2 separate regions of the Homo sapiens genome follow, and region 2 is linked to region 1. A link means that fine-mapping ties the variant in region 1 to the expression of a gene that starts in the linked region. Tissue or cell type: subcutaneous fat. Region 1 holds a variant in brackets; the other region holds the start of a gene. All regions are shown on one strand. Distances are from middle to middle.

Region 1 (8,103 bases):
AAGCACAATAGGCCTTTAACTGGCTAGTGAAATGGTAAAAAATCTCCAAATCTCTTGCGCATTAAGCCATGCACCTATGTTTTGCTGTGGTCTAATCTGATGAATGCGACTGTTGCCAACTTCAGGTAGACATGAGTGACTGGTGCTGCTCTGAGGGGGCGCACAGAGGCAGCCTGGGGTAGACGGACAGTGGCCAAAGGGTGCTTTTACCTCAAAAATACACTACAGGAAAAACAGAAGTGACAGACATTCTTTGAGTTCTAAGAGGAAACATGAGCATGTTCAGGCTGAATGGCTCTGAAAGGAATCTGCTGTGCAAAGCAAGGACAAAGAAGTAAAAGGGTGGCAGAGCCCACGCCGAAGGGGGGACCTGGGAGCTCCCGCCCCGGCCAGCGGTGCAGGTGCAGATGCAGGGAGGCTGCTGTGAGGGCTTCCGCAGCCTGAGATACCCCAGGAATGTCCTTCTTAGGGGGAAATACTTCATAAACTCAAAGGAAAGAAACCAAAAATTAGAGCAAATATACCTGTGTTAAAGTGTGTATATGGGGACACAGCAAATAATACTTTAATTGGAAATTTTACCATTTCGATCCTTTTTGGACATATAGTATTTTTAACTGACAAAAATAATTTTATACACAGAAAAAGAGCCGTATTTCGGGGGCTTTGCTACAGAGTGATCGTTTTGGCTTTTTCTTGGTGTTAGACTGTATTCCAGATACTGTGAACAGCAAAGTCAGAGCCACTCCTGGGACATCCATACCACGGGCTCTCATTGCATCCACATTCTCAGTATTTACCTGAAATGCCACAGATGCTTCCCAGTGACACTGCACCAATGGACAGAGTAACAGGCTCTTAAACCTGCTCATCAAAGCATTACTGACAACAGCCAAGATATGGATACAACCCAAGTGTCCACCAGTAGATGCGAGAATAAAGAAGATGCAGTAGATACACCGAATGGAACATCCTTCAGCCATAAAGAAGGAAATCCTGCCATCTGTGGCAACATGGATGAGCCTGGAGGACACTGTGCCGAGTCGAATAAGCCAGGCGCAGAAAGACAAATACCACACGGTCTCCTGCATGTGGAATCTAAGGATGTTGAACGCAGAAGCAGAGGGTAGAACCGTGTTTACCAGGGGCGTTCAGGGTTGGGGGGCGGAGGTGCAGGCCAAAGGGTGCAACATTTCAGCTGTAAGGTAAACAAGTTCTGTGGCTCTAATGGAAAGCATGGTGACTATGGTTAATAATACCATATTTCCTTAAAATTTGCTAAGAGAATAAACCTTACATGTCCTCACCACAAAAAACAAAGGTAACTGTAAGAGGTGATGTATGTATTAGCTTGTTTGTAGTGTGCATTTCACAATGTATATGCATATGAGAACATACCCTGTACACCTTAAGCATGTACAATTTTTATTAGTTGTAGCTCAATAAAGCTGAATAAATAAATCCCATTATGTGGACAGAGGGTTTCCAAGGATATCCTCTATAGAGGAGGGAGAGGGAGTTACTCCTGCATGTGGGAGGCATACCGTTTTCCTCCTCAACACATGGACGGTTGACTTTGCAGGCCAGAATGCATCTCACAATGAATGTGGACTGCAGAACCAAGGGGGGGTTCATTCCCTCCCTCAGCAGACGCTAAATTCTGTAGTGTTCATGGCCAACTGAGGGAGTGGGGAGAAAGGCGTCCGTCCACCTGCCAGCTGCTCCTCTGTGTGCCACAGCAAACAGCCTTACGCTTCTGAGTTCTAAGGCTATGGAGGATGAGAAAATTGAATTATCTACGTCATAGTAACTGGAGGCCTCTCTGTATGGAATTTCTGAAAATGCTCAATAACATTTTAAAATTGTAGCTGTTAGTGTAAGTATTTGAAACTCATGCAAGCAAGTACAAGACGAGAGAAAATACATTTTGAGAAGAAACAAGTTAGTTTCTGCCTTGATAGACTGCCAAAGAATGACATTTTAAAACTGTCATTTGACTCACTTATACATGTCAGGAAGATATCCTGAAATACCCTAAAATATCCTTGATATTTCAAAGAAAATATCAAGAAACTGATCACCTGTGGTAAAATCTGGACTAATATTCTTAACAAGATAGGTAAGAAAAAAATTACACCATTAACAACCAACATAAATATATGTTTACTGGAATGTGAAGGGCTTGTTCTCTATGATTTTAGCTAAGCCAGAATAATATTTATTTCATACCTGCTTTGTGCAGTCTCTTGAAATGTTCCTTTCTGTGTACATTTGTACTAGCCATTTAGGTATTTAGGTCTCTAAATCTCTCTAAAATCAAGTTTCTGCATCTGGAAAGTGAGAGCTGTACTGTGAGCCCTAATAGGAAGTGCTGGGAATGGGACTGTGTCCCCCTAAAATCCGTGTTGAAGTCCTGACCTCCAGTGTGACTGCATTGGAGGTAGGGCCTGTAGGAGGTAACTAAGGTCAGATGAGGTCATTCAGGTGGGCCCTATCTGATAGGGTTGGAACAGGAAAAGACAGCAGATACAGCGCTCTCTCTCTCTCTTTTTTTTTCTCTTTTTTCTCTCTTGCTCTTTCTCTCCCCACCCCCACCTCGCTGTCTCTACCATGTGAGGACACACATATAAGGCCTTTGCCTGCAGGCCAGGAAGCTGGCCCTTGCCAGTAACTCTACCATATGAGGACACACCTATAAGGCCTTCGCCTGCAGTCCAGGAAGCCAGCCCTTGCCAGTAACTCTACCATATGAGGACACACCTATAAGGCCTTCGCCTGCAGCCCAGGAAGCCAGCCCTTGCCAGTAACTCTACCACATGAGGACACACCTATAAGGCCTTTGCCTGCAGGCCAGTAAGCTGGCCCTTGCCAGTAACTCTACCATATGAGGACACACCTATAAGGCCTTCGCCTGCAGTCCAGGAAGCCAGCCCTTGCCAGTAACTCTACCATATGAGGACACACCTATAAGGCCTTCGCCTGCAGTCCAGGAAGCCAGCCCTTGCCAGTAACTCTACCATATGAGGACACACCTATAAGGCCTTCGCCTGCAGTCCAGGAAGCCGGCCCTTGCCAGTAACTCTACCATATGAGGACACACCTATAAGGCCTTCGCCTGCAGTCCAGGAAGCCAGCCCTTGCCAGTAACTCTACCATATGAGGACACACCTATAAGGCCTTTGCCTGCAGGCCAGGAAGCTGGCCCTTGCCAGTAACTCTACCATATGAGGACACACCTACAAGGCCTTCGCCTGCAGTCCAGGAAGCCAGCCCTTGCCAGTAACTCTACCATATGAGGACACACCTATAAGGCCTTCGCCTGCAGTCCAGGAAGCCGGCCCTTGCCAGTAACTCTACCATATGAGGACACACCTATAAGGCCTTTGCCTGCAGGCCAGGAAGCTGGCCCTTGCCAGTAACTCTACCATATGAGGACACACCTATAAGGCCTTTGCCTGCAGGCCAGGAAGCTGGCCCTTGCCAGTAACTCTACCATATGAGGACACACCTATAAGGCCTTCGCCTGCAAGCCAGGAAGGCAGCCCTTTGCCAGTAACTCTACCATATGAGGACACACCTATAAGGCCTTCGCCTGCAAGCCAGGAAGCTGGCCCTTGCCAGTAACTCTACCATATGAGGACACACCTATAAGGCCTTCGCCTGCAGTCCAGGAAGCCAGCCCTTGCCAGTAACTCTACCATATGAGGACACACCTATAAGGCCTTCGCCTGCAAGCCAGGAAGGCAGCCCTTGCCAGTAACCAAACCCACAGCACCTTGGTGTTGGACTTCCACCTCCCAGAACGGTGAGAAGGGAGTCCCTGCTGCCTAAGCCAGCCCACCTGTGGTTCCTTATTACGGTGGAGCCCAAGCTGCCTCAACAGGAGTGAAGGAAGATCACTGTGGAAAGCACCTTACAGACCATCAGGTTTAACAAAAATACCAAGGTGGTTAGTTTTATCCATGAAAAATCGTTATTTTAAAACCACCTCATTCAAACACCAGGACTTCAGTGTGTCAAAGTTGAGAGAAAAGGCTCAGCCAATTTGTGTTTTCACACTTTTAGAAATGAACATTATATAATTATGAAGGCTCTAACATTTTAACATTAGCATATCTAGGAACTTTACTTTTCAAACCAAGATTTATAAAACTTACTGGATGATAAAAAGTAAACAGGAAAACTTCTGCAGCTTCTAACTGGAACTTTTCACACAGCAGCCTGGCTGAAGTTATCCTGCCTCCTGCATCCTAATTATTTTATGACCCCAGAGGCAACCCACAGCTGATCACTTTAATTTAAGGTTCTGGGTAGCATTTCCATAGTGCTCTGTTAGCTGATATCTAGACAAACTAATGTCATCAAAAGGCATTTCTAATGCAACCAAAACAGTCCGCTGCCTCAATGCTCTCCCAGTACATACCCCTTAAAGTCAAGGACCCACAAGCAGGTGCGGATCGTGAGCTGCCCCGAGGCTCATTATGAATCTAATTTATGGCCTGACTCCCCTATTCCATGCGTTCCCCCATAATCACGGCCTCCTCACTTACCATACTCAGGGGCTCCAGGGACTCACCAAAGGAACAAATTCAGAATACAATCGAATGTATCATAAAACTTCTACAGAATGGAGGTTGCAATCTAAGGTAATTGTTCAATAAATTATTTTCAAAGTCAATCCTGCTTTTCTTTTCACAAACATATCAGATAAAATCTTTCATAAAATATTATTCTGCATTTTATCATTTAATCCCAAACTATGTTATGA[C/T]ATTTAATTAATGTTCACATCTTGGTAGCAGCATCATTATATTAATAATAGAACATAGCTATCTCCACATTATCTTCTGACCACATATTTTAAGAACGAGCTATTTTCTATGACATAGATAACTTATCAATTATACATTTCTCATCAACAAAAAAGTGGTTTGGGGGTATATAAGATCATATTTCTTATTCTGGTCTTCTAAAACATTGTTCTTCAAGTTATTACTGAATTACATGTATGAATGGGCCTCACAATTCTACTTCAGATATTTAAACTGTGGACTTAACACTAAATTTAAATTTGTTATGGCTGCAAACTCATGTTCAGATTTTAATACTGCAGTTTCCAGAAAGATTTCAATCAGTTCTACAGGTAAAACACTGCGCCTGTACCATGGCCACCAGCCAGGACCCTGCCCCCAGGTTTGTTCAGCCCAAAACCCTTCTTGTGGTGAGGACAGGATGACCTGGGGTGTTAATCCCCCTGCTCTCTCCCCAGGTCCTCGTCGATCCCCCTCCCTTCCCTGGAGGTCTTACTCCTCACACAGGCCTGGCCTCACTCTTGTAAGGAGAGAATGGAGATGTGGGAAAGGCGAGGGACCTAGAAAATAAGGGTTTTTTTTTCTCTCTCTAATTGAAGGGCTTGAAAGTTAAATTTTAAAAATTAGAAATTTATAGAAAAACAATTCTGAAGTATTCTATTTCACACCCACACATGAAAGATACTTTCAAAAATACTCATAGAGTTTTATTTCAGAAAACAATGTGCTAACAGACTTCGCCCTGGGGCTATGTGAGGGGGCTGTTGAGTCAGGAGGCATTGTTTCTTCCACAGAGTTGGACATTCCCTTTGCTTTAGCAAACACTCTATAAGGCATTTTTCAGAATGGGGCATTGAATCTCTCTCCACTTTTTAAAAGTAATTCACTCAAATAAAATTTCCTAAATAGGCTGAGGGAGCCTGGATTTGCCATCTGAAGTAAGTAAACTATTTCTCAGTGTCTGGATGCAATGATTTCAAACTAAGAAGAGTTACTTGAAAACTCTTGTGCATATTTGCTTAATTTGGATGTTAAATCCTTATTAGAAGGATTTCAATATCCTGGGATTAGAGTTTTGAAAAGTGTATGATAACTCCTAAATTTTAAAAATTCAATGATTCCATAGTATTCCACCTTCTTGAGGAGTTGGATCTGGCTTCTCACACCCAAAGCCCTGAGTATGAGTTTCTTCAGGTCTAAGCACAGGCCAGGAATGACAAAAGCTGCCCTTGGCGGGCTTCATGGGGGAGCGGCCCCGTAGCCCTAACCTGATGCGGGGACAGTGCACTGGGGTCTCTGGGAGCTGCAGTCAGGAACCAGGCCCCCGGCCGCCATGACCTTATGATGTTTGCGTCCTGGCATCAGAGTCTCTGGTCCATCTGGAGCCCCTGCCTCGATCCCTGATGGGGTACAGGAGGAACCTGAAGATGCTCTTCTCCTCTGAATTAGCTTCCAGGGCTTTTCCACCCTAAGCTGTCCTCCCCCAGCCCCTGTACTGATGGGCCTGGCCCTCCAGGGGAGCTGTCCCAAGTGGTCCAGGGACCTGGGGCTGGCAGCTTTCCTGGTCAGCCTGGCCTGCACTATCAGGGCAGGTGATGAGGAGCAGGGGTGTCTGTCCATGTCAGCTGCCTCTCACCTGCCAGCTCCACACCTGGCAGCACTGCTCTTGCCAGTCAGCTGGGCACCCACCAAGATTAGTCACAGATGCGAATGGGCCTGTCATCGCCCTTCAACTTCGCTCTTCACAACCATATCACAGAGCAGACATGAACAGGGCAGGAGATGGGCCCCAGCCCCAGAACGTCAGGCGACCATCAGGTGGTGGTCAGGTGGTTGTTACACTTTCTCTCTAAAATGATCATTGGGCACAGCCAGTACCAGGAAAAGGCAGTCTCCCGGTAGATAGAAAACACCTGAGGCTGGAGATAAGCAGCTTCCCGATAAGATCTCAGGAGCTGGGCAAGTGGCCTCAAGCATGCACACTTCAAGACAAAAGGGTGGTATTTAACTGGTCTATGACTTTCCTCTGGGTGGACTCAACTGGTGAGGGAAAAACGCCTCAAGTGAACATGTGCACAGCCCCAGGAAACACACAGTGCATGCGGCCCCTCCCAAATGCTGGCCGGCCCTGTACATGCAGACAGCCCACCCCGAAGGAAGAATCAGGGAAGGGGGGCTGCAAACCTTGGAACCATGTCAATGGAGAAAACCCCAAGTCAAGGGCTGGATGGGGCTCTTGATCTCTCAAGTCACCCACCGGCCCTTGCAAATGTCCTTCACTTCCTTTCATTCCTGCTCTAAAACTTTTTAATAAACTTTCACTCCTGCTCTAAAACTGGCCTCACTCTCTCCCTCTGACTTAAACCTCTTTCTGCCCCTCAACCCAGTTCTTTCCTCCAAGGAAGCAAGAATCAAGTTTGCTGCAGACGGTTGTGGATTCACAGCTGGTAACAAGAACTCACCACATATGAGCCCCAGATTAACTTCTAGCGAATGTACACATCATTGCAAAGTTAGGCTTATTAAAATAAATATGTTGGTAATATTGAAAATATAAATTTTTCTTGTGGGGACTTACATCCAACTAAGAATGTGCAGAAAACTTATCAACTTTGGACAGTTCATATAACAACTCATAGTCCTTAAAGGAATGGACTAAGTAGATCTACATGGAGCAGGTTTTATCTTCATGCATTGTAGATCCATTTAAAAAGCATAACGTTTGCAAAATGAGCACCTAATGGCATTCCATTTATCTACAATTGAAAAACACACAAAAAATATGTTGTCTGTGGAAAAATGCGTATGAAGGAAGAATTTAAAAATGTAAATGGAACAGTCGGTAGGAGCATCAGTACCGAAAGGCCAGTGAGGAAGCAGTCAGGCTCCAGATGTGGAGGCACACTTCACTCTTTAATAACGTAGACAGAGCCAAAGCAATCTAGTGCTATGTTGGCATATAATAAATATTAATAATAATTGCACAGGGTTCTGTTTGCTCACTTCAATTTTTTTAGGTTTGAAAAATTATATACTTAAAAAAATAAAAATGTTTGGCAGATTATGCAACTGTCTTTGCTGTTAGATTTTAGTTATTGAAAGTTCTACTTGAGTGACGCGCTATTTGATTTCTTTATAAAGTGTGCTTTTGTGTGCACACACCCTCGTACACAAACATATGTAAACTATTATTATTATTATTTTGAGACGGAGTTTCGCTCTGTCACCCAGGTTGGAGTGCAATGGCACAATCTCGGCTCACTGCAAGCTCTACCTCTTGGGTTCAAGTGATTCT
Region 2 (8,087 bases), 140 kb after region 1:
GATTCTAATGTTCTATGTGATTGTTTTTATAATAACACGATTCGGTGCCATCATCAAATGATGTTCACCCAAATGTCGAGTGAATGTTGGTAACTCCCAGAGTTGATACTCAGAATCTTGACAGTGGAGGGTCACCTTTTTCATTAACACTAATGCGGATTATTGCAAAATAACAGGCCATGCACTGATCTAGGTTTCAAGTCCAGAGAAGTGAATGACATGCAGTTTCTTTACAAAGTATAACAGATAAAACAGAATTAAAACTTAGCAGTTTAGCAGTTAGCAGACTGTGAAGTTTAATAGTTTTTGCACTAAAAATATAACTTTACATTTTACAAATGTTTAGAACAGTATCCCCTAAATAAGAAGCATACTCACTTTCTTAAATCCAAAGTCTTTGCTAAATTAAAATGTAGCTAGTTTATAATCATATTTATAGGATGTAAAAATGTAGACTCCTTAAAAAGCAAACTATTTTAACATGTAATTCTAATTGCAAAATCACATCCTCATATTCACAGCATTGTTAACAGTATTTATTAAAATGTGCAAGGGGAGAAAACAGGAAGGTTCAGGCTGATGGGGTGAAGAAGCAGCACGGTCCCTGGAAGGCAGCCAGAAATGGGTGAGCTTTTGGAGGGCCTTCTTGTTCAGAGGGGCAGGGGATGAAGAGCCACAGGCTGGGGTCAGTCCTCAGGTGAGGGATTACACCCACATAGGGGAGCTTAGCATTTAATACAGAAATAGGAAGGATAACCTCGGCTTCCTGAATTTTACAGGGAACTTTAGTATGGACTGGGGGAAAGTGACATCTAGTGTTAGCTGAAAATAATCCAAAGTCGACTATTCAAAACTACAGTCATGACAACATGCGGTAACCAGCTGGACAACAATGACAAGTACACACCAGTTCAAGGTCCATTTTCCATTAAATCCTGAGTGCATTTTTCCTCCAAAAGCATGTTTTCCACCTTCCTTGTTGTGTCTCACTCAACAAAAATACCTCTAGAACTAATTAAAGAGTGAGTTTCTGAGGGATTTGGAATCAGATACAAAGTGACCTTCGGAACCCAAGCACACATTCCACAGGTGAGAAGCCAGAGCCAGAGAGGATGGTGGTTCCCGAAGCCGGGGTTCTCTGAGTTCCCTGGAACCCTGATCTCCCTCCTTCCTTCTCCATTTCCACGAGCACCTGCCTGTGTCCGCCCCATGCCCAGCAGCGCAGGAGCTAGGGGTGCGCAGCAGAGCCTGAGAGCAGCTCCTCTTTGGGGTCCCTCGTGTGCCTGCTGTCACATGCTACATGAGCTAACAGGAAAGCCAGAAAATCACACTGCTTAGTAAGTCTATCCTGAATATACCCATTTAGTAAATAGGAGGCCTGCGATGCAAACACACCCTCTGTCACCGAGAACTGCAATGCCAGCCCCTCTGCCAACTCACTCAGAGCCTCATGGGGTATCTTGAGAAGCAGATCTAAATTAAAACTGAAGCTTAAATGCCTTGTCTACAGTCATCATCCATAAAGATATCCAGAGACAAGAAGCTGTTGCTCCACATACACCATTCAGAAAACAAGGCAATTTTAACATCCCATGTTGGAAAAAAACAAAAACAAAAACAAGGCACACTTTTCTTAATTGGACCTCATTCAAATATTTACTGGGGAACATGTCTCCATGTCTCCTGGTAAAGTCAGGTAACTGCCTGCTTTGTAATGCATGGATTTTGCTTATGATGTCATAGACGTCAATAGAAATTCTACAGTTGAAATTAAAGATGAGTCAGCAAGGATGAGAAACATAACCAAAGCATAGAAGGAATGGGGAACCTTCTTAGGAGCTCAGATGCTTCATTCATCTCATGCAGCAATTCACATCTGTAAACAGATGATTAGGTGGTGCCCTTACCCCACATGCACCTTTAAAATGACCTAACGTGCTTTCCCCCTTCAGTGGGCAAGCTCATCACATAAATGGGCATGTTCCCGGCTCATGCCAATAATTCTTCCAGCGCCCCAGACTGAAGAAGTGTTGTCATTTAAAAGCAGCAAATGTGCTGTAAACATCAACCAATAGTAGTCTTTGAAGCTACAAGCAAGACACACTTCGCACATTGTACTGAGGTTGTCTGCCAGTGGGATTTTACCCCTCAAATCCAGGTATGGTCAGAGACAGAGCTCCATGAACTCACTTAACTTAGAAAAAAACATCGGGAACAGGCACTTGAAAGGGGAAACAAAACAGGTCTGTTACCGAACAGGAGACCTTCAAACGTGGCCAAATTCCATGATTCAAACAAGCAGTCATGATAAAGAATGTGTATAGTTTTGACTTCAGATAGAAAAAATATAACTAGAAATATAAGATTTAGAAAAGACTTTCATCTTTTTCTAGTTAAAAGCACCAAGTTCTCTTAACTGAAATGATTAAATAATTACACAAGTTGAATAATATTGTGCAGTTATGGTAAGAAAATAATTCTGCCATTAAGTAAGGATGACATTGTATACTAAGAACATTCATGTTTTCAAGACAAACCTGCCAACACCAATACTTAACAGATTCGTTTTAAATACATAAGAATCTGAGCTAACATGACCATGCACTGGTGTCTAAGGTAGGCTTAGCACATACCTAATTACTTATGACTGCAAAGTTAGGAGTCTTGCTCTTAAAATGCTCCATCTTATTGTAATACTTGGCCTCCAACGCTAAAAAAAAAGTTTCTTTCAATACAATTCAGACAGGCTGTTTCAAATAATCAAGGTCCTTATTAGAAAGAAAGCGCCAATCACATCTTGTAGCAAACAGGTGAGCAGAGGCCACTCTTGACTGGAAAACATCAAATTTAGCACCTTAATTAATACTGAGCGCAAAGGAGAGCATTTACTAGAATACGCGCAGTTGCTTTATTTGTTGACGTTATTGCCAATAACTCATCAAGTGGGTCAATCATGAAGTATGATGAATCCACTTCAACGCTTCCGCTATAATTACAATGATTAAAAGCAAGAATTGCTTTGCTCGAATGTCTGGAGAAAAATGCACAATCCCTAACCGTGGGAGGGCATCATTATAAAGCTGAAGGCAGTGACCAGACGGAAAGCCTGTGATTCCACAGCGCCTGCAGTTTTTACTGCGGTTTATTTCCAGGTAATCCCCGCATATTTTCTCGGGTTTGATTACCATGGGCAACAGTGGGATAGCTATTCATATTACAAAGTACTTCAAGAAACGAACACCCACATTTTACATGAAATTTAATTTTCATATTTTGTAGTAAAAGCCCAGAAAGGTGCTACTTGAATGAAGATGCACCTGTCTCTACATAGAAATCTTTTTAACATCACAGTAGCGACGACCACAGTCCTAGTTTAGAATCATTATTATGACGATAGGAATTTGTAGCAGCCCTCAACCCGTGGCCTTCTGAACCGTCTCTCCACTGTCCTATAAGGGAGGGCTAACTGTATTCCTGGTCGCTCCTGGGACTGGGAGCTCCTGGGGAAGGAATCCTAAAGGAGTGGTTGTCAATGCATTTTCATTAACAGCCGCGCTTCTCGGCAGCCTCCTAGGGCTGGGGTGGCCACGTGCTCCCTTAAACTGTTTTCACAACTCGAGGCTGTGCTGTGGGTGGCAACTTGAAGGTTTCCAAGAACTTTTCGTTTTTCTTTGGGCCAACATTTCTGTTTTCTGTCAATCAATAGTTTAGTTATTTAAAAATAAGAAGGTGAAGAGGGAGTTATTTAGGGTGGGAACCAGAATAGACTTCAAAAAAGAAATCCGTATTACCCAGTTGGCGTCCCAGCGGTTCCCCGAATGGCCTAGAGCCCCCAGCACCTGCCGAGGCCGCGCCATGCACCTGGCTGGGCTCAAACTGGCCAACTCAGACCTGGCCTGGGCGCCCGAAGGCTGCAGGGGGGACGCTCCGGTCCGAGCCACCGCCTGGGCCCGAAAGAGCCGCTCCTGGGAAGCAATGCCGGGCCAATCTCAAATCCCAAATTCTGGAAAGCACTACTTCCCACGCAGTAAAGGGAAGCCCGGGCGCCTCAAAACCAAACCTTGGAAGACGCTGGAGGAGCAAAGCCTGCAAGTTTCCAGTAAGACACTGGGCTGGAGGGAGCAGAGCGGCCAGGGGGCGGGTGCCCACTGCGTCCCGGGGCTCCGGCGCCCACCCTCCGGCCAGCCGTCCCCGGAGACAGGGAAGGGGTCGCGGGGAGCGAGGGGGCGTGGAGGGAGGAGGGGCGGGGGGAGAAGGGCGCGAAGGAGAGGGAAGGGGGGCCGGAGGTGAAGGGGCGCTGAGGGGCCGCACTCACCCGCGCAGGTACCAGCAGGCAGCCCTGGCGTCCGCGGGAGGCGGCCGGGGGCGGGGGTCCCTCGGTGCCCATCGCCGCCCCTGCGGCTGGGTCCGCGCTCCGGGCCGGCCGAGCTCAACGCCAGGACCCCGTCCGAGCCTCCCAGGGCCCCGCCAGGCGCCGCGTCCGCGCCCGCGCCCCTCTGCCGGCTCCGGCTCGGGCTCCACCGGGGCGCAGGGCTGGGGAACCGGAGCTCCGCCCGCCGACCCGGAGCACCGCCCACGCAGACCCGCCCCGGGCGAGGGAGGGGCCGGGCGCGCACCCGCGGGGAGGGCGGCGAGCGGGGATCAGCCGAAGTCGGGAGAGGGGCGCTTCCACGGGGCGGGAAACTGGCGCGCGACTCTGGGGGAAGTGCAGGATGGGGGGACAGGGGCGCTCCCGCGGGGGTGGATGGGGGACCATAGCGGGGCTGGCGGGGCAGGGGCCGGCGCACGAGGCTGGAGGAGGGGAGCGCGCGCTTCTACCCGGGCTGGGTCGCCGAGGTCCGCGGCGCATCGTGGCGGCGGTGGGCGGAGGGGGGCGGGGGGCACCTCTTCTCCCTTGTGGCGCAGGTGGGCGCGCTCTGGACCGGCTTGACGACCCCTCCCCGCCGCCCCACCTCCCTGGCCAAAGGTTCTCAGCTTCTAATCAGGGACATTTCTAGTCCACAGCCTCGAAGCCATGGGTTCTCCCCGGCCCTCTGAAGCCGCCACACCTGTGCCAGCCGGCCGCGTCCTCAGACCTTTCCCCGCGGAGTCTTCCCAGCACTTGGAGACGCAGCGCAGGGCCCCGAGGACGGCCTGGCCCGGAGAAAAGATACCGAAGCTCCAACTTTCCCCAACCCCGCTCCCCTCCTCCTTCCACCCTCCCTTCCCGCCCCCAAAGCTCGGGGGTCCTATCCCTCCTCCGGTCCGCGGAGTCTCCCGAACCCTGCGGGGACCCGGCGCTCGGCGGTGCCCTCCTGGGGCGCACGGGGCTGGGGCGGGAGCGAGGAGACCAGGTGGGGAGGGGACCCCAGATCTCAGACGCCAGGGGAGACGGCGTTTCCCGCTGTTCATTCAGGTTTGTGCCAAAAGGAGCCTCACAGATGCAGTATTGGGTTTGGTAGACTCAAATCGTCTTGTTTTAATGTAAATGAAAGTAAGTTTAGGATAAATTCCAGTGCGGCGGGGGCAGGCAAGGCTACCCACATTTTTTAAAAAGAAGCCAGCCCGTATTTTTCTCCCTTTCCAAATCCTCCGCCCCCCAGTCCTTCGACCCAGGCACGAGCGCCCATCGCGGAGGCCACGATGCCCGTTTTATTCCCTCTCCACGGCAAGGAAAAGCAGCGAAATCTGAGGTCTTCAGAGGTTAACCCTATCTAGGAGCAGAATGTGACGCATTGTAAACAAATAAATATTGAAAACTCGATGTTAAACACTTTACTTTTTCTGACTCCGACTTGCTTGACCCCTGAGCAGACCTGGGTTTCGAACACAGACGCCCTTCCCCATTTCTCTATTCTCTGTATTCCTGTTTCACCTTCACGGCAGTCTGCCAGCACTTCTTAGCACTCAGTTTAACCAGAGGACAAGCTCTTGAATAGCAAAAACCAGGTCTTTTTATACGTGGCACAGTGGCTGTTACAAAATATGCTTCTTGGGTGAATTGGTAAAAAATATTGTATTACTTTTTATTTGTAGCAAAACCTAGAATAAGAAAAAGTACAAGAGATTATTGTTTGCCTTTAAATTGCATTTTTAAAAGAGCGTGCATATAATCTCTGAGAAATTAAATGTCTACAAATAGCACAAAGATATTGTCTCATTACCTTGCAAAGGGACATTCTATTCCAGGGCCTGAAGAAGGAAAAACAGCGTGTTGCATGCATAAATGTTGACTTTGAGAGACAAGTTTTTGTTAAAATTTTATCGTTAAATGAATAGACACATATATTTTTGTTTTTCAGACCAAAGGTAATTGTTAATTCATTTGTAAAATAATGTAGTTTTGGCTAACAATCTCTGGAATCCTTTCTATAATAAAATTTTGTGATTCCAGGACGTCGTAGGCGCTCTGGGGCTGCTTTTGAAAGGCTAATTAATTCAAGTTTTAACTGCCTATCTGCTTTTATGCATCTGTGTCAGGACTGCACGTAAGGGTTATTTTGCTTATTTTAAATACTAGGGTTCTACTGCAATAACAATAACAATAAAAAGTAAAACCCTGACTATCCTGAAACTCTGCGAGGGAATGTCCCCCATGAGGTTACCAAAATTCAACTTTCTGGTTTTTGTGATGAGTATAGCTTTGATTCTGAGATGTGTCTAAAACCAGTTGCAGTTAGTGTCTCTTTATTAACTTTTAACTTTGAAATAATTCTGAATTTACAGAAACTTTCTAAATGTAGTACAAAAAACTCCAGTAACCCCTCATCCTCATGGGTATGTTCCAAGACCCCCAGTGGCTGCCTGATACCGTGGATAGTACTGAACTATGTATGTGTGTATATATATGTATCAATTGCATGCATATATATATGTATCAATTGCATGCATATATATATATATATATATATGCATATATATGTATGCATCAATTGCTGACCAAACTGATGTATGTGGCCTAGACAAACTGGAAGATGCCCTGGTCAAAAGGCAGGAGCAATGAGGTTGTATTTCAAGGTAAAAATACAACCTTGAGGCCGGGCACAGTGCTTCACACCTGTAATCCCAGCAATTCGGGAGGCCAAGGCAGGTAGATTGCTTTGAGCTCAGGTGTTTGAGACCAGCCTGGGCAACATGGTAAAACCGCGTCTCTACAAAAAAATACAAAAATTAGCCAGGCATGGTGGCATGCACCTGTGGTCCCAGCTACTAGGGATGCTGAGGCTGGAGAATCCCTTGAACCCTGGAGGCGGAGGTTGCATTGAGCCGAGATCATGCCACTGCGCTCCAGCTTGGGCGACAGAGTGAGACCCGGTCTTAATAATAATACAACCTTGGCCTTGTCATTTTTATAGTCAACATATTCAGAATGGCCAGGTACATTGTCTGTTACTAATGAGACTTTATATTCCAACCTTCCCCCTTCCAAGGCTTTGGGAGGAAGTACTGGTGGAGCCCTTCCATAAACATGGTGGTTACCACTCATGCTTTCTGGTTATGTTGCCTGAACACAAGCAGGTAACGTTTGTTTTTTGAGCATAAGTGTTCCTCTGTGTGTGCAGCACACCTGGCTTGGCCACACGTCCTACAGCATTGCACACGGCACAGGGTAAATCAGCCCTTCAGTGTTTTATGCCCTGGGGCCTTCTTTGCCCTTTCAAGAACGTAGGTTCTGTTGGGTATCTTCTTCCAGAGGAGCCTGGTCTCACTGCAATTGAAGACTTGCTTTGGATGGCATCCTTTCCCTTTAATCAACTTCAACTCTGCCGGAAATATGGCAGCAGCTTCTTCACTGGCAAACACAGCCTCTCCAGTTTTTTGGTTTTTGGTTTTTGGTTTCGTGACAAGCCCACTCCTAAATCAGTGTAGCTATGCCTCACTTGCCATGAATGGCTCAGTGTCACTCACTTTGGGGGACTGACTGCTGAAGTCTTCCCATGGGATTGTGCTTTCTGCGCTGACGTGCCCTCGGTGGGAACACCTTTCCGCTCATGTCTTCTACCTACAAGTTCAGCGTCTTTTCCGTCTTAAATAGGCACTTATCACTCACTGCAGCCGTAACGTTTGCAGTTTGAAATGTGATAGCAAAACTAGCATGATTTCTTTTT

Which allele goes with the higher level. Positions count from the first base shown, and alleles are read on the strand shown. Sizes are in standard deviations (SD) of each study's normalised expression.
In carriers of allele C in region 1, the expression in subcutaneous fat of the gene that starts at base 4,535 in region 2 tends to be higher than with T alone (small effect, 0.40 SD a copy in GTEx).

The links. PIP is the estimated chance that this variant, and not a neighbour inherited with it, causes the effect.
Region 2: it holds the start of SNTG2, and the variant in region 1 is fine-mapped to the expression of SNTG2 in subcutaneous fat (GTEx, PIP 0.95).

What each region holds. Positions count from the first base shown.
Region 1 is chr2:1,089,544-1,097,646 of GRCh38, reverse strand. All of the region lies in intron 2 of SNTG2 (syntrophin gamma 2), which reads right to left. Among named protein-coding and RNA genes, the nearest start is that of SNTG2-AS1, 140 kb to the right of the region's middle. RefSeq lists an enhancer at 6,271-6,772. The variant C/T (reference allele first, on the strand shown) is at 4,769.
Region 2 is chr2:947,297-955,383 of GRCh38, reverse strand. It overlaps SNTG2 (syntrophin gamma 2), which reads right to left and starts at 4,535. Exons shown (of 17, transcript NM_018968.4): 1 at 4,316-4,535. The coding sequence starts at 4,387. It overlaps SNTG2-AS1 (SNTG2 antisense RNA 1), which reads left to right and starts at 3,992. Exons shown (of 3, transcript NR_136151.1): 1 at 3,992-4,099; 2 at 4,998-5,473; 3 at 5,583-5,750. RefSeq lists a silencer at 4,497-4,626.